Homo sapiens: one gene and its partners. The protein of the gene in region 5 purifies or fractionates together with the protein of the main gene of each other region. This does not show direct contact. Each region holds a gene or a part of one and is shown on either strand. Other genes may lie near its edges. The genes, in order: CIB2, TACR1, PCDHGB4, SLC18A2, RDH11, PYGM and HK1.

Evidence for each region.
Region 1: the proteins of RDH11 (region 5) and CIB2 purify together in Homo sapiens (co-immunoprecipitation; one large-scale study listed by IntAct). This does not show direct contact.
Region 2: the proteins of RDH11 (region 5) and TACR1 purify together in Homo sapiens (co-immunoprecipitation; one large-scale study listed by IntAct). This does not show direct contact.
Region 3: the proteins of RDH11 (region 5) and PCDHGB4 purify together in Homo sapiens (co-immunoprecipitation; one large-scale study listed by IntAct). This does not show direct contact.
Region 4: the proteins of RDH11 (region 5) and SLC18A2 purify together in Homo sapiens (co-immunoprecipitation; one large-scale study listed by IntAct). This does not show direct contact.
Region 6: the proteins of RDH11 (region 5) and PYGM purify together in Homo sapiens (affinity purification with mass spectrometry; one large-scale study listed by BioGRID and IntAct). This does not show direct contact.
Region 7: the proteins of RDH11 (region 5) and HK1 purify together in Homo sapiens (co-immunoprecipitation; one large-scale study listed by IntAct). This does not show direct contact.

Annotation. Positions count from the first base shown.
Region 1 is NC_000015.10:78,104,106-78,107,445, forward strand, and holds the end of CIB2 (calcium and integrin-binding family member 2), read right to left. Parts: intron 1,830-3,340; coding exon 1,634-1,829; coding exon of another isoform or gene 1,543-1,633; exon of another isoform or gene 1,234-1,542; intron 1,228-1,233; coding exon 1,206-1,227; 3' UTR 501-1,205; downstream 1-500. UniProt on the Homo sapiens protein: Calcium- and integrin-binding protein that plays a role in intracellular calcium homeostasis. Acts as an auxiliary subunit of the sensory mechanoelectrical transduction (MET) channel in hair cells.
Region 2 is NC_000002.12:75,123,021-75,126,520, reverse strand, and holds part of TACR1 (substance-P receptor), read left to right. Parts: intron 1-3,500. UniProt on the Homo sapiens protein: This is a receptor for the tachykinin neuropeptide substance P. It is probably associated with G proteins that activate a phosphatidylinositol-calcium second messenger system.
Region 3 is NC_000005.10:141,390,698-141,394,197, reverse strand, and holds part of PCDHGB4 (protocadherin gamma-B4 isoform 1 precursor), read right to left. Parts: intron 1,566-3,500; exon of another isoform or gene 1,385-1,565; coding exon of another isoform or gene 1-1,384. Other genes in the region: PCDHGA8 (protocadherin gamma-A8 isoform 1 precursor), read right to left, coding at 1-1,384. UniProt on the Homo sapiens protein: Potential calcium-dependent cell-adhesion protein. May be involved in the establishment and maintenance of specific neuronal connections in the brain.
Region 4 is NC_000010.11:117,254,614-117,258,113, forward strand, and holds part of SLC18A2 (synaptic vesicular amine transporter), read left to right. Parts: intron 1-663; coding exon 664-753; intron 754-865; coding exon 866-909; intron 910-983; coding exon 984-1,044; intron 1,045-3,183; coding exon 3,184-3,279; intron 3,280-3,500. UniProt on the Homo sapiens protein: Electrogenic antiporter that exchanges one cationic monoamine with two intravesicular protons across the membrane of secretory and synaptic vesicles.
Region 5 is NC_000014.9:67,689,265-67,692,764, reverse strand, and holds part of RDH11 (retinol dehydrogenase 11), read left to right. Parts: intron 1-171; coding exon 172-327; intron 328-1,520; coding exon 1,521-1,625; intron 1,626-2,343; coding exon 2,344-2,553; intron 2,554-3,500. UniProt on the Homo sapiens protein: Retinol dehydrogenase with a clear preference for NADP. Displays high activity towards 9-cis, 11-cis and all-trans-retinol, and to a lesser extent on 13-cis-retinol.
Region 6 is NC_000011.10:64,745,898-64,749,974, reverse strand, and holds the end of PYGM (glycogen phosphorylase, muscle form), read left to right. Parts: intron 1-2,616; coding exon 2,617-2,751; intron 2,752-2,987; coding exon 2,988-3,054; intron 3,055-3,166; coding exon 3,167-3,316; 3' UTR 3,317-3,577; downstream 3,578-4,077. UniProt on the Homo sapiens protein: Allosteric enzyme that catalyzes the rate-limiting step in glycogen catabolism, the phosphorolytic cleavage of glycogen to produce glucose-1-phosphate, and plays a central role in maintaining cellular and organismal glucose homeostasis.
Region 7 is NC_000010.11:69,377,847-69,381,346, forward strand, and holds part of HK1 (hexokinase-1), read left to right. Parts: intron 1-2,015; coding exon 2,016-2,249; intron 2,250-3,500. UniProt on the Homo sapiens protein: Catalyzes the phosphorylation of various hexoses, such as D-glucose, D-glucosamine, D-fructose, D-mannose and 2-deoxy-D-glucose, to hexose 6-phosphate (D-glucose 6-phosphate, D-glucosamine 6-phosphate, D-fructose 6-phosphate, D-mannose 6-phosphate and 2-deoxy-D-glucose 6-phosphate, respectively).

The DNA of each region.
Region 1 (3,340 bases), on a different chromosome or scaffold from region 5:
TGTGTGTCACTTCCCTTCCTATCCACATGTCCCCTTCTCTATAAGGGTGGACAGCTGGCTTGCTACCCCACTCCCAACAACCCCCAGGCCTGGGATGCAGAAAACAGGACTGATCATCTCCAGAGAGAACACCATACGTGCCCCTCCTCCCTGCCCTGACCCTGGGCAGAGCGGGCTCAGGTTGCATTTGTGGGAAATCTACTCTTAGTGACCACTTGGCTATGCAGCTTTTCCTGAAATATAGGCCTGTAAGAGTCCCTCCCTCCTTGGGGGTTTAAGGATTGAGACTGAAGCAACTGTCCCTGTGCCTGAGTGGTTAGCACTCCCAAATGTTAACCAGAGATACTGTCAGGGAATTCACGGAAGGTTCGGGGCATGAATGTGTTTTCCTCCCGATGGCACACGCACTGAAATCAAAGTTAGTGCCTAAAGCAGGAGGCACTGCCTAATGCCGAGAGGTGAGACACCAATGGTGGGATTTCAAGGATCAGAAGCAAAGGTACCCTCAAACATTTCCTAACATTAGCATACATGGAGAGCAAAGGGATGCAAAAGTGTTTTACTACCAGGAGTTCACAAATCTGTGGACAGCACACCAGTGAGGATTCCACGGTGTTGGGGAGGCAGGCAGGGTGGTACTCATGACCCAGAGGCAGAGACAGGAGCAAGAGCCCTTGGGCCCACTGCACCCACAGCTTCACATTGTGAAGGAGGCCGGGAGAAGGGGAACAGGCAGGGGTGGGAAGCAGCCCAACCTTGGGTTTTGGAAAAAGATTGCATAGCTCGTTAAAACCCTGACCTCTTTTTTTTTTTTCCGCTCTGTCCTGGGTGACCAGGGTGTCTGCCAGCACTTGGACACGTCAGACCCCACCACCTCCTGTTGGGTTATCTGCTTTTCCCTCTTTGGGGGGGTGGGGAGCATTTCTGGAGTAGGAAAGGACTGGGGCATGGGGCGGGGTGCGGAGGGCCTGGAGAGAGGCCATGGGTCCCGGGGCTGGACCACAGCGGGGCTGTGGGAAGGGTCCTAACCTTCACAGGCCCCCTTCCTGGTTAAGGTTTTTTTTTTGCTGAAAGGGCCACAGGATATATTTGTGGTGTAAACCCCAGAGGCTGCCACTGCTTTCCTGGGGAGCTTGGAGGCCACACCCATGTGACTGCAGGGCAGGATGGTGGACTTCTAGGCCCCTACAGCCTCGGCAGTGTCCTCAGATCCGGATGTGGAAAGTGCTAGAAAGAGAGAAAGGGCAAGAGAGGGTGAGAGGCCCTGGGTCGGGCAGGTAAAGGCTCCTCAGGGAAAAGCACAGCAGGCCCCAGCCCCATGCTGGACAGTGCCTCATTAGGGAACCCTGCATAGTGGATGCAGGTAATCAACACTGGGGGAAGACGGAGGAACAGCGGTGCCCAGGGAGTTCTGCCCCCACTTATCACTGAAGGGGCCCCCAGGTCTTCAACCTTCCCCCTGCAGGGGACAAAGGCCAGTCACACGTCTAGGGCAAGGGTGGCTTGAACGTGACCTCCTGCTTCCTGGCCGCACACCACTGCTCACAAATAGCGAGTGATAGGGGCCTCAGCCCCAACATCCCGGCCTGCCCTGCTCTGCCCTGCCCAAGCCCGGCCCCTGTAGTGGCAGCACCTGAGGAAGTCAGGGGCCTTGGCAATCATGTCCTCGAAGTCAGCAAAGCCCAGCTTGCCGTCACCGTCCAAGTCAGCCTCCTCAATGACCTTGTCGCACACAAGCACCACCTCCTCCTCATCCAGCTCTGACTTAGTGAGCCGGGCCAGCGTCAGCTCCAGGTCCTCCTTGCAGATGAAGTTGTCAGTGTTGAAGTCTGTAGGGCAGGGGTTGGACATGTTCAAGTCCAGGCTGCGTGCACCCAGGGACCCCTACACTATAGCTCTTCCTCCTAGCTGGCCCCACTACCTCCACCAGCTTCTGATGTCCCCAGAGCATCTCCATGCACACTCTTGGGATACTGGATCCCTGCCCCCAAGAGGGCTTACCCACCAGGCATCGCTTAAACACCCACATCCACCACCAACAACAACCCCACAATGACTAAACCACATCCTGAAGCAGGTCAAAAGTCCAAATCTGAGGTTTCCTGAGAACTTCAGGCTTAGGCCAGATAGCCCTTCCTGGCCTTAGCCCACAGTGGACCCAGTGTTCCCTTTAGACTTCTAGAGCTAAGGAAACTAAGGCCCAAAAAGGCCATGCGATTGAATCAAGGTGGGAGAGCCACTCGGAGATGGAGCAGGGATTCTGACTAGGGCCTATGGGACTCTAAGACCCATGTTTTCTAAACTGCACCCCGTTGCCTCAGTGGTGTGTGACCAGAAGACACGGTGGGTCAGGAGACTCAAAATCAAAAGACCCTTAGAGAGGGGCCTGTGCCTGGCCTTTGTGCACACAGAGCAGGGAACATGGTTTGATTCTACCCAGCAAAAGGCACTACCACTGCCCCAAAGCACAGCAAAATGGTTCAGAGGACCGAGCCATGCCTGGCCACATCAAAGTGAACTCTCTCTTCTTACATTTTGAGCCCAACTACCAGATCTGCGCATGTGCTGTTTCTTCTGCCTGGGGTCCCTTCCCAGCAAACTCCTGGTCATCCTTCAAATTTTGGCTCACACATCACCTCCCAGTGGCGGGGCTTTCTAGCGATAAGGGTCCTCTTCCCCGCAAATGAGCTTCTGTTGCCCATTGGCAAACTCTGACATTAATGGTAGTGACAAAGACCCATCATGTGAGCATTATATGCTCTTTCTCATTTAATTTTCAAAACAAAACTATGAGGCAGGCACAATTGAATCTCCACTATACACATGAAGAAACAGAGAGGTGGCCAGGCGCGGTGGTTCACGCCTGTAATCCCAGCACTTTGCGAGTCCGAGGTGGGTGGATCACGAGGCCAGGAGATTGAGACCATCCTGGCTAACACGGTGAAACCCCGTCTCTACTAAAAATACAAAAAAAAAAAAATTAGCCGGGCGTGGTGGTGGACGCCTGTAGTCCCAGCTACTCAGGAGGCTGAAGCAGGAGAATGGCGTGAACCCAGGAGGCGGAGCTTGCAGTGAGCTGAGATCGCACCACTGCACTCCAGCCTCGTTGACAGAGCGAGACTCTATCTCAAAAATAAAAAAAGAAACAGGGAGGTGAAAAGGAGAGGTACCTGCCTGAGGTCACATCCCGGTCATTGTTGGACCCTAGAGCCCAAGCTCTTGGGGTGACTCTGCCCTGTCTATCTCTGCAGAGGCCTGGGCACAACTCTAGGGTATGCGTCAGGGAGTATTCATCTCTGCCCATGGCATGGGACATAGCAAATCTCTGGAAAGATTTGCT
Region 2 (3,500 bases), on a different chromosome or scaffold from region 5:
TTTCACATTCAAGTCTTTATTCCTTGAAGAGCTAAAATCAGAACTACCATTTGACCCAGCAATCCCATTACTGGGTATATACCCAGAGGAATATAAATCATTTTATTATAAGGATACATGCATGCATATGTTCACTGCAGTACTACTATTCACAATAGCAAAGACATGGAATCAGCCTAAATGCCCATCAATGACAGATGGGATTTTTAAATGTGGTACATATACACCATGGAATACTATATATATAATTCTTCCATAAAAAAGAATGAAATCGTGTATTTTACGGGAACATGAATGGAGTTGGAGGCTATTATCCTTAGCAAACTAACACAGGAACAGAAAATCAAATACCACATGTTCCCACTTATAAGTGGGAACTAAATGATGAGAACTGATGAACACAAAGAAGGAAACAGACACTGGGGTCTACTTCAGGGTGGAGAGTGAGAGGAGGAAGAGAAGCAGAAAAAATAACTATTGGGTACTAGCTTAATATGGGTCATGAAATAATCTGTGCAACAAACCCCTGTAACATGAGTTTATCTATAGAACAAACCTGGCACATGTACCCCTGAACCTAAAATCAAAGCTATAAAAAACTAAGAAAGACTGAATCCTGCACAGTTCCCAACGTATAGTCAACACAAAAGTTAGTCAACAAGTAGGTATTGAGGCTCTATTTAGGGGCTTAATGTCAAGAGATAAAAAATTCTGAAGAGCCAATTCCAGTGAGGTCACTCCTTCAGGATGATCCTGGGTGTCTATATGACAGAAAACACTTTGAGCAATAATTATTCTCACATAACAGTCTTACATGTGTTGAGACTGGGAGGAATAAAGGTATAACATGTATGTTTTTCTCCTTTTACACTTATTTTCACTCAACAAGCATTCATGAAGCCACTGCTATGTGCCAAGATATCATTTATGCAACCAAACTTTCAATGAGTATTTACTACATCCTCAGCACCTGGGCAGGCCAAGGACCTGTGGAGGGTGAAAAGAGAAAAGAAGGATATGCAATTAGAAAAATAAAGGCCCGGCGCGGTGGCTCATGCCTGTAATCCCAGCACTTTGGGAGGCCGAGGACAGTGAATCACTTAAGTTAGGAGTTCAAGACCAGCCTAGCAAACATGGTGAAACCCCTTCTCTACTAAAAATGCAAAAAAATTAGCTAGGCATGGTGGCAGGCACCTGTAATCCCAGCTACTTGGGACACTGAGGCATGAGAATTGCTGGAACCCGGGAGGCAGAGGCTGCAGTGAGCCGAGATCATACCACTGCACTCCAGTCTGGGCAACAGAGCGAGACTCCATCTCAAAACAAAAAAAAGAAAGAATAGAAAAAAAAGAAAAGAAAAGAAAATAGAAAATAAAGTGAAGCGTGGTCAGCACAAGGTTTAGAGATCTTCACAGCAGTAAAGGCAGGCAACAAACACAGCCACAAGGACATGATGACTGGGCCAAGTTGTGAAAATAAACAGGAACAGCCAGGAAGGGATCGAGGAGGAAAAACATCCCAGATTGACCACTGTGCTCACATTAGAACCAGGGTCTTATCTGATTCTTGGTCATGACTGGCCGTAGACCACCTTACTCACTGCTTGTGGGACACAGGAGTTATCTACCCAATGAGTTCCCATCTGCCAAAGGTAAAGAGTGTTTCTGAATATCACACCATCTTCTCCTATGGTTCTAATTCCTCCTGCTCTTCGCTTCCTGTAAACTAGACCAGGGGACAGCAAGCTATGGGCCAGGGACCAAATGCAGCCTACCTCCTGTTTTTGTAAATAAAATGTTATTATCATACAGCCATGCCCAATAGTTTCTTTGCTGTCTGTGGCTGTTTTCACACTACAAAGATAGAGTTTGATAATTACAACTGAAACTATATGGACCACAAAACTCAAAATATGTAATATCTGTCTTTCCCAGAAAAAAATTGCCAACCCTTGAGCTAGACTATAGCAGCCACACTCTCAGCTATTACCACCCTGGTTATCTGAACTCAGGAAGATGTGGTCCCTTAAAGGAAACTTGTAACACCCCAGGAGTGAGTGGGAGAAGTGAGGGCAGAAACTGGAATTGGATGAGAAAGACTGTGGAAGAAGGGCCCCACTGGACAAATCTCATCGTAGAGGAAAGACGTTCTCTCTGCTGAGTGATTTGGGACTGGTATAGCAGGAAGTTATGAAGATACTGCCGCTTGTCAGAGGATTGAAATTCCTTTTCACAATAAGATTGTTTTCACTCTGCCTACAAGAAAAAACAAATGTGCAGCAGAGAGTTCTTTTTATAAAGCATCATCATGCAAGAGGAAGGCTACATCTCAGGTTTTTCAGCTGGGAGGACACATACAATTCAAATCAGTCCTGATGGCCCTCAGTGGGACTGGAACCACCTGAAGTAAAGAACATAATCCATATCCCACACGCCTCCAGATCCCTGTCGCTGGCAGCCTAATGATTAATGCTTACACCAGAAAGACGTTTCATTGACTGCCTTAGAGTCCCACGAGCACGGTGCAGTCAATAAATATTTATTGAATGTATTTTCCTTGGGTTTGCAGCACTTGCTCCGTAATATCTTATAACCAAATAAGCAAGAATTGCTCAGGCTGGTTCCAGATAAATATATAAATGTATGTTAATGAATCCTAGCTAGAAGTGGGGAGTAGGAAAGAAAATATTCATCCATCTGTGTACAGGTTATCCAAATGGTACTAGCTTTTGGGTGAATAAGAAAAAAACATGTTAAACGAGCCCCAGAAATGAGGATTGCAAGAGAGGGATAGAAGAAAGGAGGAAAGAGAGGAAAGGAGGGAAGGAAGGAGGGAGGGAGATTTATAAACACCTCTGTTTTGAACAAATGAACATATATACATTTTTTAAAGCCAGTCTTTTTTATTCTCTCTGGCTTTATGTGGGTAATACTTTCATCTGCCACTAAAATGGCTCCTACACTAAAGAACGGTAGAGAGTTAACTGAAGTGCGTTCCCAAATTGCAATTTTTGCAATAAGGATAAAATATGGCTTTCTGCCACCCATTTGGAGTTACAGTGCCAATACGCTGGTGCAATCCCCCGTAAGCCCAGTCACATTAGATTCTGAATGGTGTATCGCCAATTCGAGCATGGGGAGTGGTGTTAGGATTTGTTTATTTAAGACTGAGCATTTATCCTGAATGAGAAACAAATTAAAATCTTGCATTTGAGGTAATATTAAAAGAGGGCAATGTAATTACCACATTCTCCCCTGAGCATCCTCCTCAAGTTCCTGTGAAGCCTGAGAATGCACAGCTGCCAGTGAGGGTAGGAACTATGCAGTGCTGGAGGTGAGATAAGGCATCTTCACCGCTGCATTTGGGAAATAATCCAACAAGCAATCCTATGGTTTTAATACAAACACTCAAAGAGGTTCTGGCCATGACCATCTGGGTCCAGCCCTTCACTGAATTGGAAAGACGGCAACGATAATGGTTGAACAGGCCCACATGTGTTG
Region 3 (3,500 bases), on a different chromosome or scaffold from region 5:
GGATATACGCTGAGTAGGAGGCATGAGGGAAAGTAGGAGGGTTGTCGTTAATGTCTGCCACGTGCAGAGCGATTTGAGTTTCAGTGGACAGAGGTGGTGTTCCTAGATCTGAGGCCATCACTGTGATATTGTAGATAGAGACATTTTCTCGGTCCAAATATTTCCTTGTCACTAATCTATAATAATTACCTATTGACTTTTCTAATTTAAAAGGTAAATTATCACGTGTGTAACAGACAACTTGACCATTCTTTCCAGAGTCTTGGTCATGCACACTCAAGAAGGCAATTACTGTCCCGGGAAGAGAATTTTCTAACACTGGGCTAAACAAAGACGTAATGATCACTTCTGGTCTATTGTCATTTACATCTTCCACCGAAATGAGCAATTTGGTCCTCCCCAGAAGTGCCCCCACATCTTCGGCTTGTATTTCCATTTCATAAAATGAACATTCTTCATAATCTAGACTTTTTGCTATTGATATTTCCCCAGTATTTTCATTAAGCTGGAATAACGGAGTTTGTTTTTCATTAATTTTCCGGAATTTGTATGCCACTTTTCCGTTGATTCCCTCATCCGGGTCGCTGGCTGTTACAGTAAGCAGCCGCGTGCCTGGGGGCATGTTCTCAAGGACTTTCACTCGGTAAATCGGGTGAGGAAAAACCGGGGCATTGTCATTTGTATCCAACACTGTCACGTGGATGCGCACTGTGCTAGAGCGAGGCGGCTTGCCGCCATCCGAGGCCGTGAGGACCAGGTGGTGAGCAGCCTCTTCCTCCCTGTCCAGGGCGCGCTCCAGCACCAGCTCTGGGTTTATGGCTCCATTGTCTCCAGTCTGCACGTCCAGGGAGAAGTGGTGATTGGGGCTGAGCTGGTAGCTCTGGAGGGAGTTCACGCCCACATCCGGGTCAACAGCTTCTGGGAGTGGATAACGTGCTCCAGGAACCGCGATTTCGTTAATTTTTACTTCTAGATCTTCGACCTGGAATTTTGGGTTATTATCGTTAATATCAATTATTTCTATTTCTACCCCAAAGAGTTTTCCTTTATCCTCAACCAGGGTGTTAATATTTATCAGACACCGCGGGCTCTGAGCGCAGAGCTCCTCCCGATCTATCCTGCCCGCGGTGATCAAGCTGCCGCTGCGCGGGTTCAGAGCAAAGAGCTGCGTCCTACCTCTGGAGACGATACGGACTCCGTGCTTCGCCAGCTTCCGGGGGTCCAGCCCCAGGTCCTTGGAGATATTACCCACGAAGGAGCCTTTGTCCGTCTCTTCTGGCACAGAGTAGCGAATCTGTCCCCTCCCGATTTCCCACAGCGTTCCCAGCAGCGCGCACAGCAGGATCAGCTCGCCGCGTCTGGGGCGACTCTGTGGAGCGGCCATTGTTGTTTTGCTGCAGAATCCTCTCAGAATCTTCACTGTGCATAAATGGGTCTTATTTAGTTTCTTGCCGCAGCTATGGAGATGACAATCCTCCGGAAACCTGGAGTGCCTCCAAACAGGGGTCGGGTTTCGCTGCAGTCCAGCAGTTAGTTTGTGGCATCTGCGGGTCTTCGTGAGGTGTGAGATCTGAGTGTTTTCGGTTGCATTTGTCTTCCAGTAGGTGAACAGCGGCGCTTACAGTCCTAAATAGTTACTGCACTGAGATACAGATTACTTCTAAATGTAATACTCTACTAGATTACTGAGAAAAAAAAATCATTTGCTTATTACTTTGTTTTGAATTTATTTGATTTATCCGTAAACCCATATTTTAAAAGAAACAGCCAAAGAATGTGAGATGAAGGTTTTATTTAGTGTTATTAAATGATCAGATTAGATCAGAATGATCAGATTGTAGCATCGGATTAAATTACTCACATTTCTGCAATACATTTGGTCTTAAAAAAAACATGATACTTTCATTTCCCATTGTGCTCTAAGCTTTATTGTAAATGTCTCCAATATATACTAACAAATAACTAAGAACTTCAGTTGTCACCAGAAATGAATTTATCTTGAGACTAAAATAGACCTACTGGAGATGACTGACTCAGAAATTGTTTTATTTGGTTTAAACTACTTAATCATTTTACAAGCTTTCTATAGAGTTGTTGCTTTTAAATTATTCTTCTAAATGCCACTTGAATTACATGTCGATAATATTTTCAAATAAAAATTGTGGAATTTCAATAGGATAAATGCTTTTACCATTGCAGTTTTATGAGATATTACATTGTTTTGCTATTTTATTTACATTGTTTATATTTTTCTATTTGAATACTTGAAAGGTACAGATGAATATATGATAAAAAGCAAAGCTCCATCCCATCCCTTTCACCAAAGAGATGATTAAATTTAAAGCAGACTTGACTTTTACATATATTCTAAAATTAACTTTACCTACATTAACACTTTGATCTAAAAAACTGCAAAAAGTAATGACTATATAATACTTACTAAGAAGCCAAAGGATAAGTATGACTACAAAAAAGTCTGTTTCCCTTCAAGACCAGCCTGGGCAACGTAGCAGATGAACTTATTTCACCCTTCCTTTGAAGACTGGTATGATAGTTTTTTCACTGACTAAAACTTTCTTAAAACCACTCATGAAATCTGAAAACTTTATATTTTCCTGTGAATATATTTTCTTATGCATATGGAAAACTGGGTAGACAATGGAAACCATACCAGTTAAATTAGTGAAAGAAAATATTTTCTCTACTGAAAACAGAAAAATTAGCCAGGTCTGGTGGCATGAGCCTGAGTTCCAGCTAGTCAGGAGGCTGATGCAGAAGGAATGCTTGAGCCCAGGAGTTTGAGGCTGGAGGGAGCTATCATTGTGCCACTGCACTACAGCCTGAGTAACAGACAGAGACTCTGTCTCAAAAAAAAAAAAAGAAAAAAAAAAGAATCGAAAGACGTTTCCTTCTTTCAGCAATTTGTAAAGTGGCCATTAACTGAAGCAGTTGCTTAGATATACCTAGCAAAAGGCTCATATAATGTTCCTTGGTATTTTGTATATATTTTGTATGCACACCAGATTGGCAGTTTTCAAGACTATATTTCTTTCCTAGAGGTAGGAGAATGATTAGAAGACCTCTAGCTATATTAGTTTAGGGCTGCAGATAAGGCAGTTACACATTATATATTAGGGCTGTGTGTGAGAGGGACAACAGACACAAAACATTGTCTTTTCTTTGATGAAGGATATAGAATGAGCTTGAATACAGATTAATCCTGAAACTCCTATGTTACAAGTAAGGAGAATCTGCTTTTGATCTTCTAATGAGCATAGTAGACCTTTTTCTAAGTAAAAGGATCTCTCTCACACACACACACACACACACGCACACACAGCGTACACTGCATATAATCACAAGGGGTCCATGGACATAAAAATCCAGTTGACTCCTTATTCTAAGAGCTTTTGAAACAAAAGGGAAGTTAACACAGGAAACAAAACAGTGGACTACTATGGAGACCATACCAGTTAAATTAGTTAAGAAAAGTGTTGAAT
Region 4 (3,500 bases), on a different chromosome or scaffold from region 5:
TATTTTTTTCCTTTCCTGCTTTCATGGAGACTTTGAAAAATGGTAGGAAGAGCCCTGAGCTGGGGGTGGAGGGGATCAGGACTTCCCCTGCCTCTGCCCCAAACCTCCCTGGGCCCAGATGGAAAACCAAAGGTTGAACAGGATGGTCTGCCAGACCCTTTCCTCGGGAACATTCAGTGAGTTGTGATCACGGAGAACCTTGCTTTCTGGGTCTGCCTCCCCCAGCTGCCCTGGCTGACTTCCCAGACCAGGGGACAAACATCTTCCCTGAGAGGGATTCAAAACCTTTTCCTTCCTCTTCCGATTTCCCGCCTGCTTCCAGGAGCCTGCAGCCTTGCCTGCGCTGGTGTACAAGGAGCGAAGTCTCTGTTTACACATTTTCCTGTGCAGTGGAAGCAGCCCAGCCCTGGGCCTGGATCTTGTTTCTCTCGGGCCTTTGCTTTCAGGGTGACCTTTATAGACTCCTGCCCATTTCTTAGGAAAAGGCACTTGGAGGAAGTTGCCAAGACAACTGAACTCTAACCGAACAGAACAATAGGGCAGCCACCCCAAAGCCTTATTGGAACAAAGTAGAGAGAGAAACACAAGAGTCAAATAGATGGTTCTAGTACAGGGAGAGGGCATGTGTCCCAGGGGTGGTGTCCCCACTTTCTCTCCCTGCAGTGGGCCCCCCCTTCGGGAGTGTGCTCTATGAGTTTGTGGGGAAGACGGCTCCGTTCCTGGTGCTGGCCGCCCTGGTACTCTTGGATGGAGGTGAGTGAGTCCACGTGGGCGCCATGCCATGACCTTGGCATCGTGCTGGCACGCGCTTGGGCCACACCTGCTTTCTGAAGAGGGGCTTGTCTTTTTTATTTTTATTTTTTAGCTATTCAGCTCTTTGTGCTCCAGCCGTCCCGGGTGCAGCCAGAGGTAAGCGGCTGGGAATGAGGGCCCTGGGGGAGGGGGCATGGTGCTGCTTCTGACCCGTGTTTTTTTCTTGACAGAGTCAGAAGGGGACACCCCTAACCACGCTGCTGAAGGACCCGTACATCCTCATTGCTGCAGGTGGGGCTCTGTGGGTCTTCTGAGTCAGGGGAATGCGAGGTGATGGCCGCGTGCTGGAGGCAGGGGTGGATGGCCAGGGCTGATTTTCGTTTTGCTGCTAGAAATGTTGGGCTATATAAAAAAACAGAAAAGGCAAAGAGGCTACAAGTCAAAGGAAATGGTTTTCTTCCGCCATTGCTTTCTGACACTCAGCCAAGGCCCTTTTTGTCTCATTTGGGGAAAATCAAAATGGCGTATGCTGGGCTCTGCAGAGCTGCCTGGGTCCTGGGGATGCCCGGCTGGGTTTGTTTGGAGCTAAGCTTGCCCACTGTGTTTGTATGGAAGGCCATCATTGTTTGGCCTTGAACTTTCCGGAAGGAGTCCTTGGCCTCAAGGCAAGGGTCCCCGGTGGGCAGTCTGACTCACCTTGGCATATATGAATAGAAACTGACAGCAGAGCCCCACAGGGACCAGAGGGGCTCCCTTCTTGCAGAGAGCATCCCTGCCGAGCAGCAGGGAGGCCGTTCAAACACCCTTTGGCTAAAGGACATGCTTTGGCCTAGAGGGGCTAAAAGAAAGCACTGGGGTTTTGTGACTCTTGGGAAGGATAATGGTCTGCATCTATCCAAGGGACTGTTCCCCAAGACTGTCCCAGTGGTAGGAGGCTGCCTGCTTTGCCAGGCCCCGGGCTGCCTAACCAGGGACCAGCCTTGTGTAGGTGTTGCTGGGCCTCAGTACCAAGGTAAGCAGACCCTTGGGGTCAGGCCAGGAGAAGGTCTGGCTGCGCGCTGATGTGTTGGTCTCTGGGGCAGCCTGCACTGTAGCACTAGACCCAGTTAGGGTTAGACTTGTCTAAGCACGGCTCCCTAACACAGGTAGGCTGGAGGGCGCCTGGGAGAACTGGGCACCAGTAGTTAAGTTCAGCCTTTGTCAACCCTCAGGCTGGTTTTGTTTAACCCTTCTGCTGCTGGATTTGATTAGGGCAGCAGGTATGTAACCCTGGCCAAGACCCTGTCTATCATGCTTGCTGGCCAAAGGGATATGGAGGTGGCATGGTGACTTATTCATGCAGTGACGTCTGCAAGATGCAGGGGGCATCCCAGAGCTCAGATGCTTCTGGAACCCTGGCATCTGAGGTGGGGACGAGGAGGTATGGTGAGGGACGGGGGCTCCAGAAATGTGACTTCCTGAACCTCGGGCACGTCTGAGCAGGGCTGTGCAGCCTGGGCCTGTCCTGTCTTGGGCTTCCCTGGAACCTCACTGCCTAGTACCTGCTCACAGGAGACACAAAGATGCTACCCAGCACTCCTGGACTGTCATCGACACTTCCAGACAGCCCGACTGGGGAAGGGAGTTGAGAGCCAAGTGGCTGTCCACTTGAGGGGAGTCCTGCCATTGATATGCTCTGCCTTTAAGTGTCATGTCGAATGAACAGACCTTTCTTCACCATATGTGCACCTTCATCACGATTGCACAATATTCTTTGAATTTGTTGTAGCAAATTAGAGGTTCCAAGAGGCACAACACGGGAAGTTCCCAGAACGATGGAGAACAGTTCCGTGGGTCTTTTTCCAGATAGTTCTATATTTACAAAGGGTTCTGGTTAAGAGATCATGAATATTTGCATAGGTGCCCTTATGTACCGCTGAACCCCGCCCCCTCCACCTAACGGCATGCCTGTACTGAATGCACCTGATCCTGCTTGGATTTTCTGGCATTTCTAGGTATCATTAGAAATGCCCACGTATATTGCACAGTAAAACACAGATGCGAGAGCCTCAGGCTGCCCCGAGACTGTGTGTGGTCTGGAAGTGGCCTGATTGCTGGGTGGCCCCAAGCAAGCTACTGCATTAATAAACTGGGCTTCCTTTCTTCATTGATAAAACCATAATTGGGTAGGTTAAACCAAAGGAACTCTAGGGCTGCCTCCAGTCCAAACTTTGTCTCTGGGATTCTAGTTGTTTAAAATGAGGACGACGACGACCATGATGATGATGATTATGATAAACAGCCTTTGCTGTCCCCTTGATATGCGATTTATCCTTTACTTAATGAAAGTAGAAGTTGCGGTTATCTGAGCTGTAGGCGCATGGAGTCTAACTGTGCCTGGAAATGAGAGAGGAGGCAGAAGCCACTACAAAGCCCTTTCCTCCCTTACAGGCTCCATCTGCTTTGCAAACATGGGCATCGCCATGCTGGAGCCAGCCCTGCCCATCTGGATGATGGAGACCATGTGTTCCCGAAAGTGGCAGCTGGGTAAGGACTGGGGTGGGCTCTTCTGATTCAAGAGCATTTGTCCCCAGGGCAGCCTTTGTCCCCAGGGCATCCCTGCTGAGTTGCCCTTATGGGGATGATAAAGTGATTGCTTCTGTTTGACTCTTAATGGGGTCATTGCTTAGGGCAGCCTTGGGGTCTGTTTGTTCTCTGGTTTATCCATCATCCCTGAGGGGTGCAGAACTCACACAGACACATCAGAT
Region 5 (3,500 bases):
AATGAATATTATTAATTTATTTTTCTTTACCTATTTGCTAATCAGATACCTCTGTTGTGAAGAAAGGGTAAAAATGTGTGTTTTTTAAAAAAATGTTGGAAATAACATTAGATTTATAATGCCAGCTCAAAAACAGAGCTGACCATTTCTCTTTCATATGTTGGCTGACAGGAGCTCGAGTATATTTAGCTTGCCGGGATGTGGAAAAGGGGGAATTGGTGGCCAAAGAGATCCAGACCACGACAGGGAACCAGCAGGTGTTGGTGCGGAAACTGGACCTGTCTGATACTAAGTCTATTCGAGCTTTTGCTAAGGGCTTCTTAGCTGGTAAGTGTAGAACTAGAGAGACTATGTTGTGGGTCTTGAGGTCAACATGGCAGATTCAACTAAAAGGAAAAGGTCCCTCTTCCTCATAGAAGTGGTGGATAAAATATAGCCAAAAACTTCTGTAGCTGAACTCATAGTCACTGGGACACAATTTATGTCAAAGGGATATCTTCCAGAGGCAGAAACAAAAAATGAATTCAAAACGTCATAGCAGTGAGTAAGAGCTGAAGCCAGAAATCTCATGGGAGTCTCAGCACTCAGTACAGGCTTTTTAGGGTCTGGGGTCTAAATACTTACACAGGGATAGGAGATGAGGCCACAGGCCTTTGAGAGCTGGAGCTGTATTTGAGGTTCTACACAAAGTTGAGATTCACAAAGGGCCATCTGGTCCATAGTATAGAAGCTAATAAAAATCCTGGCCACCAGCTCAGAGACATGACAAAGAAGTTTACCATCTCTTTAGACATAGATGGATACTTACCTGCAAAAAATTAGAACCCGAGCTGGCATCATGTGTGGGGTCTGAATTCGTACCACCAAATGATATGAGGATATTTATGGGTTTGATTTTTGTATGTGTGTGTAATACTCTATGGAAAATTAACGTAAAAACCTGTAGTGTCTCATCAAAAGCAAATCCAAGAGCACTCTATAGGCATATCCCCTTATAGCCCAGGGATCTAGGCCTCCAAGGAAAAAGCTTTCACTGGTGTGAACTCATAGTCATAAATTACAAACCACATGAGGAAATGAACCATGAGAGAGAATTGGAAGATGCAATAAAGAGGTGAAGCCAGTATTTATTTCTTTGGGGACCTGAATCCCAGGGCAGAGGTACATAGAGAACATTCTTTTTTCTCTTGCTTTGGAATCTTTCCATTCAGCTTGGGAAGTCTTTTTATTGAGAGAGGTGGATGCAACAATTCCCAAAAGCAGTGAGTAAGTAGCTCCTGAACTACAAGGATCTGGAAGGTCATTTGGTAGTATAAAATGGAATTCTGCCCCATAGTAAAAGTAGGTGGGATTCAACTAAAGTCTTAAAATGAAAAACAATAGAAAATAAATATGAAGGAAAAATGGAGGGAAGATTGAAGTCCTGCATCCTCATTTTCAAAGCCTGAGCGTGAGGCAGCTTTCTAAGATGTAATAGCCTTGGCTAGCCACTTCCACGCTCCATCGTCTTGTCCCTGCAGAGGAAAAGCACCTCCACGTTTTGATCAACAATGCAGGAGTGATGATGTGTCCGTACTCGAAGACAGCAGATGGCTTTGAGATGCACATAGGAGTCAACCACTTGGGTAAGAAATCTGGCCTTATCACAAAGCTAGAGAGACCCAAAATTCTCTTTGGGAAACTTAGGGGTCAGATTGAGGCTTCTTGTTGTGTGATTGAACCTCAGGACCATAATAGACCATGTGTGCATAATAGTTTGGTCCTACCTGATAGCTGAGGAATACCTGAGGGCTGCTCCAGGTTCTGCCCGCTTTTTAATCTGTGATTTAGATTTGGTTTGCCTTGGCGCATTTTTTAACAGACTAATTGGTTTAGGGGACTGTGTTGCTTTCTTAGTAGTGATCCTTGTGGCCAGCATCAGGTATAGGTCATCTGCTCTTTTTTTGTAAAGACAGGGTCTTGCTATGTTGCCCAGGCTGTACTTAAACTCCTGGCCTCAGGCACCTTCCTGCCTCAGCCTCTTTAAGTGCTGAGATTACCGGCGTGAGCCACCGCACCCAGCCAACCAGCTCTTAAGAATGAGATTAACCAAAGTAGGAATGAGCTGGGACTTCATATTCACATAGTCTAGACCTATCTCGCTCATATAAGGATGCCTCATGTCTTTGGCTGTTGTTATTTCCCTAAACCTTCATTAAACTTGTTTTCTAGTTGATAATGAAAAGTTGGAGGGAAAGACCTTATTTCTGAATTATCTGCCTCCCATAGGTGAGGCCTGCTCACCACGACTCCTGTCATTCCTACATGGCCCTGAACTTCATTAATTCTAGTATTTCTCAACAGGTCACTTCCTCCTAACCCATCTGCTGCTAGAGAAACTAAAGGAATCAGCCCCATCAAGGATAGTAAATGTGTCTTCCCTCGCACATCACCTGGGAAGGATCCACTTCCATAACCTGCAGGGCGAGAAATTCTACAATGCAGGCCTGGCCTACTGTCACAGCAAGCTAGCCAACATCCTCTTCACCCAGGAACTGGCCCGGAGACTAAAAGGTGGGCCTAGAGGAAATGAATGTGGAGACATGAGTCAGAGAGAGGCAGGTAAAAGCCACAGGAATGGAAACTGTTTCCAGAGCCCATCACCTGGAGAGGACCTGCTTCCGTGGCTATAATTGGGTACAGTTTTAGTAAGTAGTCTACAACTGAATATTGGAGGTGGCTGGCTGGGACAGTGAGACTCTGACTTTGAGTCTGAAGGCCTGGCTTTACTACTTACTAGCTGTGTGATCTATAGCAAGTTACTTAACTTTTTTTTTTTTTGAGACGGGATCTTGCTCTGTCACCCATGCTGGAGTGCAATGGTGCAATCTCGGCTCACTGCCGACCTCCACTTCCCAGGTTCAAGTGATTCTCCTGCCTCAGCCTCCTGAGTAGCTGGGACTACAGGTGCGTGCCACCAGGCCTGGCTAATTTTTGTATTTTTAGTAGAGACAGGATTTCACCATGTTGGTCAGGGTGGTCTTGAACTCGTGACCTCAGGTGATCCACCCACCTTGGCCTCCCAGAGTGCTGGGATTTTAGGTGTGAGCCACCGCACCTGGCCATTACTTAACTTTTAGGACTTCCTTCTTCATATGTAAATGGGACTACTTCACAGTTTATTGTCATAATTAATTCAGGCTTCATAAGCAAGTCAAGATTTTTTACTCACAGTGAGACTGAGTATGAGGGAAGGACCTGAACTGGCACTAGATAAAGGCAGTAGACTAAAACAGGTACTGGGAATATGGAGGGGCAGGGTCTCCCTTGCAAAGCATCAAATAAGAGGGAAATATATGCTTGAGAAGGGGAATTTCCAGTCACAAATACACAGAGGTCCTTAGCACTGTCTACTCTGGATTTCTAATAAAGAGAAGGGAAATCGAGGGTGAACTGTGCTAGGAATTGAGGCAGGCAGAATGCAGGCTCAAGGAATCAGGCACAGGTGCCCTATAGTTGGA
Region 6 (4,077 bases), on a different chromosome or scaffold from region 5:
TAAAAATACAAAAAATTAGCCGGGCGTGTTGGCAGGCGCCTGTAGTCCCAGCTGATCGGGAGGCTGAGGCAGGAGAATGGTGTGAATCCAGGAGGCGGAGCTTGCAGTGAGCCGAGATCGCGCCACTGCGCTCCAGCCTGGGTAACAGAGTGAGACTCTGCCTCAAAAAAAAAAAAAAAAATCCTTGCTCCCTGAAAGCCATGGGCAAAAGGGAAATATGGGCACAGTAGTTACAAGGGGCCTATGGTCAGAAACAGTTCTTCAGAGAAGACATTATCCTGGCATTACATTAAAAAATTTTATTTTATTTTATTTTAATGTATTTTTTTTTTTGAGACGGAGTCTCGCTCTGTCACCCAGGCTGGAGTGCAGTGGCGCGATCTTGGCTCACTGCAAGCTCCGCCTCCTGGGTTCACACCATTCTCCTGCCTCTACCTCCCGAGTAGCTGGGACTACAGGCACCTGCTGCCACGCCTGGCTAATTTTTTGCATTTTTAGTAGAGACGGGGTTTCACCATGTTAGCCAGGATGGTCTCGATCTGCTGACCTCGTGATCTGCCTGCCTCGGCCTCCCAAAGTGCTGGGATTACAGGCGTGAGCCACTGCGCCCGGCCTTTTGTTTTGTTTTGAGATGGAGTCTTGCTCTGTCACCCAGGCCGCAGTGCAATGGCACGATCTTGGCTCACCGCAACCTCCACCGCCCGGGTACAAGCGATTCTCCTGCCTCAGCCTCCTGAGTAGCTGGGATTACAGATACCCACCACCACGCCCAGCTAATTTTTGTATTTTTAGTAGAGACGGGGTTTCATCATTTTGGCCAGGATGGTCTCTATCTCCTGACCTCAGGTGATCCACCCTCCTCGGCCTCCCAAGTGCTGGGCTTACAGGGGTGAGCCACTGCGCCTGGCCTATTTATTTTTATGTTTTTGAGACAGAGTCACTCTGTCACCTAGGCTGGAGTGCAATGGCATGATTTTGGCTCACTGCAACCTCCGCCTCCCAGGTTCAAGTGATTCTCTCACCTCAGCCTCCCGAGTAGCTGGGATTACAGGCACCCACCATCACGCCCAGGTAATTTTTGTATTTTTGTAGAGATGGGGTTTCATCATGTTGGCCAGGCTGGTCTTGAACTCCTGACCTCAAGTAATCCACCCGCCTCGGCCTCCCAAAGTGCTGGGTTTACAGGCGTGAGCCACCGCGCCCTGCTTGAATCCTGATATCTTAGCATTGGAGAGAGATTTTCCATGTTATTAGTCTTCAAAAATATTTTAAATGTTTGTATAACATTCCATCCTATGAGCATGTCACAACTTATTTAATCAATTCCATGTGGCTGGACACTAAGGTTAATTTCCGGTTTGTTAAATATTACTGTGATGAGCAACCTTTTAATGTCTACGTCCACATCTGATGATTTCCTTAAGATAATTATCAGAAGGGTGATATTTCTGAGTTAAAAAGTATGAGTTCTTAAGGCTCTTGATACAGATTGCCAAACTGCTTTCCAGAAAGTTTCTCCCAGTTTACACTCCCACAACAGCTTCCCAGAGTTGGCATTAAACACTGAAAGAAGTGTCTCCTGTGAGGCTTCACTAGAAAGCTGGCTGTCCCATGGGCAGGAGGGAGCTGTGAGATGTTGTGAGCATGGTCCCGCATGCTCAGAACGAGGCCTGGAAGAACCCTCTGGCTGCAGGATGGAGACAGTGCTGGAGGGGGCAGGTGGGGGACCACTGTGGGGGCTGACACCATAATGCAGGGAGAGTTGCCTGAGAGTCGCACAAGGGACTAGAGAGTCGCACGAGGGATTAGAGATTTTGTGGGGAGCGCTGGTTTCTGGTTGGAACGGTTAGGTTTTGAGACTGGCCTGTGGAGCGCTTTGAGCCGTGGTGGGGGCGCTGAGGGTCAGCTGAAGGGTTATCTTTTTTTTTTTTTTTGAGATGGAGTCTTGCTCTGTTGCCCAGGCTGGAGTGCAATGGCATGATCTCGGTTCACTGCAACCTCCGCCTCCCGGGTTCAAGTGATTCTTCCACCTCAGCCTCCCGAGGAGCTGGGATTACAGGCACACGACACCATGCCCGGCTACTTTTTGTATTTTTGTAGAGACTGGGTTTCACCATGTTGGCCAGGTTGGTCTTGAACTCCTGACCTCCTCAGATGATCCGCCCACCTCGGCCTCCCAAAGTGCTGGGATTACAGGCGTGAGCCACCATGCCTGGCCCAGTTGAAGGGTTGTACCTGTTAGCTGCTCTTGCTGCCCCAGGGCAAGGCCGGATATGGACTTGGGCTACTGGAGGAGAAAAGCCATTTTGGAGCAAACAAACTGGTTAAGAGACAGCAGTGGCGTGTGGGAGAAAAGAGCTTGTTTGGGGGCCTTGGCTCTAACACTTAGCTTTCTGTATCCTCCGGGCCTCAGTTTCTTCATTCACAAAGGAGGGATGAAAAGCTGAGCAGAGAAGGGGAGTTGCAGGGAGGCCCTGCAGGGGCGATGTGGCAGCCCTGGGGAGCAGCAGGCTGGACCTGGGTTTTGACCCTGGGGCATGGGACTTCTCAGCTTTTCTCTGGAAGAGGAGCCAGGAACCCCTTTCCGGGGAGCTGACCACAGCTCTGTCCTGGCAGGTACAATGCCCAGGAGTACTACGATCGCATTCCTGAGCTTCGGCAGGTCATTGAGCAGCTGAGCAGTGGCTTCTTCTCCCCCAAACAGCCCGACCTGTTCAAGGACATTGTCAATATGCTCATGCACCATGACCGGTGAGCTGGTTGGCCCGGGAATCACTCAGGTGGGGCCGCAGGGCAGATCGAGGCTCAGGTGTGTGGTGGGGAAGCCGGACGCGGGTCCTGGTAGTTGGAGCCAGGCGCCTTTGGAAGCAGCATGACCCTCTAGGTCCCCGGCTGTCCACTGGGACAGGGCAGGCTTGGCCCTTGACCTCATAGAACTTATCCTAGCCCCCTAAAGGAATAGCACATGCCTATCCTTTCCCCTCCAGGTTTAAAGTCTTCGCAGATTATGAAGACTACATTAAATGCCAGGAGAAAGTCAGCGCCTTGTACAAGGTGAGGGGTCCTGGGCCAGGGGTTGGCAGGGCTTTGGTGGCCCTGGTTGGGATGAGGCAGAAGGTGGAGATCCTGCCAGCAGAGTGAACCAGAGCTTCCCTTTGACCTGCAGAACCCAAGAGAGTGGACGCGGATGGTGATCCGGAACATAGCCACCTCTGGCAAGTTCTCCAGTGACCGCACCATTGCCCAGTATGCCCGGGAGATCTGGGGTGTGGAGCCTTCCCGCCAGCGCCTGCCAGCCCCGGATGAGGCCATCTGAGCCTCCAGACCAGACCCCAAACCAGCCCTTGAGTCTGTCACACTCTCTTGGGCCAGCCCCAGCACCTCATGCAGAGGGTGGGGTACTGGAGTTAGATCTCTAAGCCCCTCCTGGAACCCTCATTTTCCCCACTCTCAATGTCCCAGTGTCCAGCGTGACTAAGGACACGGGCCCCCTTCCGTCCTCGGGCTCCCGGTCCCCTCCTATTTATGGGGTCTGACCAACTGCACCCACTCCCTAATAAATTCATTCTCCTTGGGAGCCTCCTTACTCCTCTTTGTTGGGAAATATTTTTAGCTCTTGGCGGGCTCAACAGCAGCCGCGCAGTCACCCCCTTATCCTCCACCCTCGGCAGGTGCGTCCCACGGCGGGACGGTGATGGGAGGTGGAGGGGGCGACCCGTGGGGGCGGGGCCTAGGCCTCTCCAGCCCCTTTCCTGGCGTCACCCTCCACGCCTCTCTTCCCAGTGCCGTGTCCATACTAGGTCAGCGGCCAGCCTCGCTGGCCGGGGGCGGGGCGTCTGCCTGGGTGGGGCCCACCGGGGCTGGGAGCCGGGACTTGGGCTGAGGCTTCCCGGACCACGGAGGATCCGCGCTGTCGAGGGCAGGACCCAGGAGGGGGAGGAAGCAGAGGATGCTCGGCGCCTTCTTGGCTCCGCCCTTAGCCCCGCCCTACTGCGGCGTTTAAGGGTCTCTTAGCAGGTGGCTACACTGGATCCAAAGTCGGGGGAGTGTTACGGCAGGGAACACTCGCAGACCGCC
Region 7 (3,500 bases), on a different chromosome or scaffold from region 5:
CGTGCAAGTTTGAGAAACACCGGTTAACAGATGAGACAGGACAGTTAGAAGGAAGGACAGAGCCAGCCAGCAACTAACTGTAGCCCCTTGGCATCACACAAGAAACCCGGGATTCTCTGTCTCCTTGTGAAGATTTGCATCAGCTCTCTTTGAGGTTAGAGAAGGCAGCTGCTGGAAGAGGAAAGGGGTTTATCTGGACCAACTCTTCTGCCAAATCCATGTGCTGGAGTTTGTTGTATGATCACTCTCCTGAGTTTCCAGCTGTCCCTTTTCATGAGTCTCCTGGTCAGTGGCTGGGAAGGAAGGGGAGCGGGAGACTCGTGGATTGTCTTGAAAATCACTGGCCAAGTCAGGAAATGCATGCCTTCCTCTTGGCCTGTTTCTGGTATTGACTCTTTGGTTACCAAGAAACACAAACCCAGCTAGCTCAAGAAAGCATGTATATTATAATAAAGGCTATCTCAAAAAAAAAAAAACTATAAAAACATCCTACAAGAGCAGATGTTAGAGGCATTCTCTAAAATCAGGAGCGAGACAGTATCACCAGTTTCTATTTGGCATCGTACTGGAGTCTTAGCCAGTGGGTTTTCGTTTTTGTTTTTGTTTTTAAAGAAAAGACGAGAGATAAATTAAAGGTATGAGAATCAAAAAAGAAGTGAAACTGTCATTATTTGCAAATGGTAAAAGTCTATATGGAATACCCCCAAAATATCTACAGACAAATGAATAGAATGACGGGAGAGGTTAAAAAGATGTCTGGATGGGGTTTCACCTTGTTGGCCAGGCTGGTCTCAAACTCCTGACCTCAGGTGACCCTCCCACTTTGGCCTCCCAAAGTGCTGGGATTACAGGTGTGAGCCACTGTGCCCAGCCCCCATCCTCTTCTATCATTTTTAAAATCTCTTCTCCCATCATAAAATTAATTTCTCTCATATTTTTTGGTCAGGTAGAATTGGGAAAGTCCCACACTCTCCTATTCTCGTATTACCTTAACATCCCAAGCTTCCTTTCCTTTTTTGGTCTTTATGAATATATTTATATGGACAGAATTAAGATAAACAAAATTGATTTCCCCATTCTCTCACTTCCCCATCTTGTCTTCCTAGACCCCACAGAGTTAAAACTTGGGACTCCCCCGACCCTCCCAGAACACTTGTATATTGTTTGTTTGAGGTTCGTGCCGCAGTAACAGACACAGTATTTGATTGCACATACAGATGTTTGCTGGGTATATTCACTGTACATTTTATTTAATCTGGTTTTTTGTTTGGGGGTTATTTGGGGCGAGGTTGGTTTTGTTTTTAAATATTAAAAAAAATCTGTCAAAAAAAGATGTCTGGAGATAAGATACAGAAGTCAACTGTATTTCTATCAGCAATAATAAAAATATGTACATATTTTAAAACACATTTTTAAGAATAATTTTAGATTTACAGGAAAGCTGCAAAGATAGAGTGTATGTATATGTGTTTGTGTGTATGTGTGAGTGTATATGTATGCCTGTATGTATACATATATATTTTAAAGGCACCATTTGCAGCAATAACAAAACTATAAAGTACTTCAGAATGAATCCAACAAAAGATACACAAAACACGTGTACAGAAAATTACAATTTCACTGAGAGACATCAAGGAAGGATGTATAAGCATCCAGGGGCAACTCACAGACCCCACGAGTGGGAGGTTCTCCTGAGCCTCATGAGCCCTGGGTGGTGGCAGCCATTTCGCCACCTGTTCAGAGGCCACATAGTCTTGCCTCTCCACTTCTCTTCATGGTCCTGGCTTGGCATAGTGCAACCTGGTACAGTTTTTCCTATCACTACCTGGCATTTCTTATGGAGGAGAACCCTTCCTGGGCTCTTCTCAGGCATTTGACAGTCTTCATCCCATACCATCCCATACCATCCCACACATGGTAAGTGGGGCTGTCCCTTTCCAGCACCTTTGAGCCTCAGTGCTTTGCACTGCCTCATGTGGTCCTCAGTGCATCAGTATTGGCTTCTAACTTCACAGGAATAAGGAAGGCCTCCACAATGCCAAAGAAATCCTGACCCGCCTGGGAGTGGAGCCGTCCGATGATGACTGTGTCTCAGTCCAGCACGTTTGCACCATTGTCTCATTTCGCTCAGCCAACTTGGTGGCTGCCACACTGGGCGCCATCTTGAACCGCCTGCGTGATAACAAGGGCACACCCAGGCTGCGGACCACGGTTGGTGTCGACGGATCTCTTTACAAGACGCACCCACAGTGAGTCTGCCCTTTGCTATCATTGGCACTCTGTACCCATTGTGGGTAGGGACCTTCTCCAGAGATCAGACTTTTGTACCCGGTAAACGTTTTTCGGCAGACAAGACAATGGTGGTCGGGGGCTGTGGCTCATGCCTGTAATCTTAGCACTTTGAGAGGCCGAGGCAGGAGGAAGGAGTTTGAGAACAGCCTGGGCAACATAGTAAGACCTCATCTTTACGAAAAATTGAAAATAAATAAATAGATAAATAACATGCTTAGTTCTGGGCATAAGGTCAGCGTCGCCCCCTTGGGAAGTATCGCCCTTAGTCGATTCTTGCTGGTATTGCTTCTGCACTCTGTCGTTACCTCGCCCTGTCAAAAGTCGAGATGGAGATTTCTGTAGCTGTCGGCTCCTCTGGGTGGAATGTGTCTGTCTCTCGTCCGCATTTCATCAGGAGGACCTTGGGTCATAGGTGTGGTACCCACATTCTTGTTTCAGAAGCTCCTGTTAAAACCCCCCAAACCCTCAGACTTTACTTTTTTAAATGGGCAGCTTGTCTGTGCTTGGCCTCTGAGAGCTGGAGCTGCAGGAGCTGTAAGTTGTCCCCATTGGCAAGGAGGTGCTTTGTTCCCCACACAGCCTTCTGGTCTGTCAGTGGCCCCAGCCAGTCCTCATGCCATCTCACCTTAGTTTTAGAAGCCATGTTGTCCTGTGAGAACGTGGCTTATACTTTTTTTAAAAGGCTAAAGGGAAATTCTAAGTCATTATTTAATAAGTTTTAATGCTAGCCTGTGACATGATTGTTTTGCACAGGACCTCAGAGTTGTTTCCCACTGTACATATAAATACAATGTGCATGTGAAGCACCCATGTCAGTACTGCACCTTCACACCCAGTTCTGTTGATGGCTCAAAGAATGTCGACTTCAATTGAAATAGTTCTGGCCTGGCATGGCAGCTCACACTTGTAATCCCAGCACTTTGGGAGGCTGAGGCAGGTGGATTGCTTGAGCCCAGGAGTTCGAGACCAGCCTGGGCAATGTGGCTCTACAAAAAATCATACACAGCTGGGTGTGGTGGTGTGCCTATAATCCCAGTTACTTGGGAGGCTGAGGTGGGAGGATCACTTGAGCATGGGGGTGCAGAGGTTGCAGTGACCTGATGTGCCTCTACACTCCAGCCTGGGGGACAGAATGAGCTCCTGTCTCAAAAAAAGAAAGAGAGAGAAATAGTTTTGTGTTGCTGAGGGGATAGGGTTTGAGCCAAGGA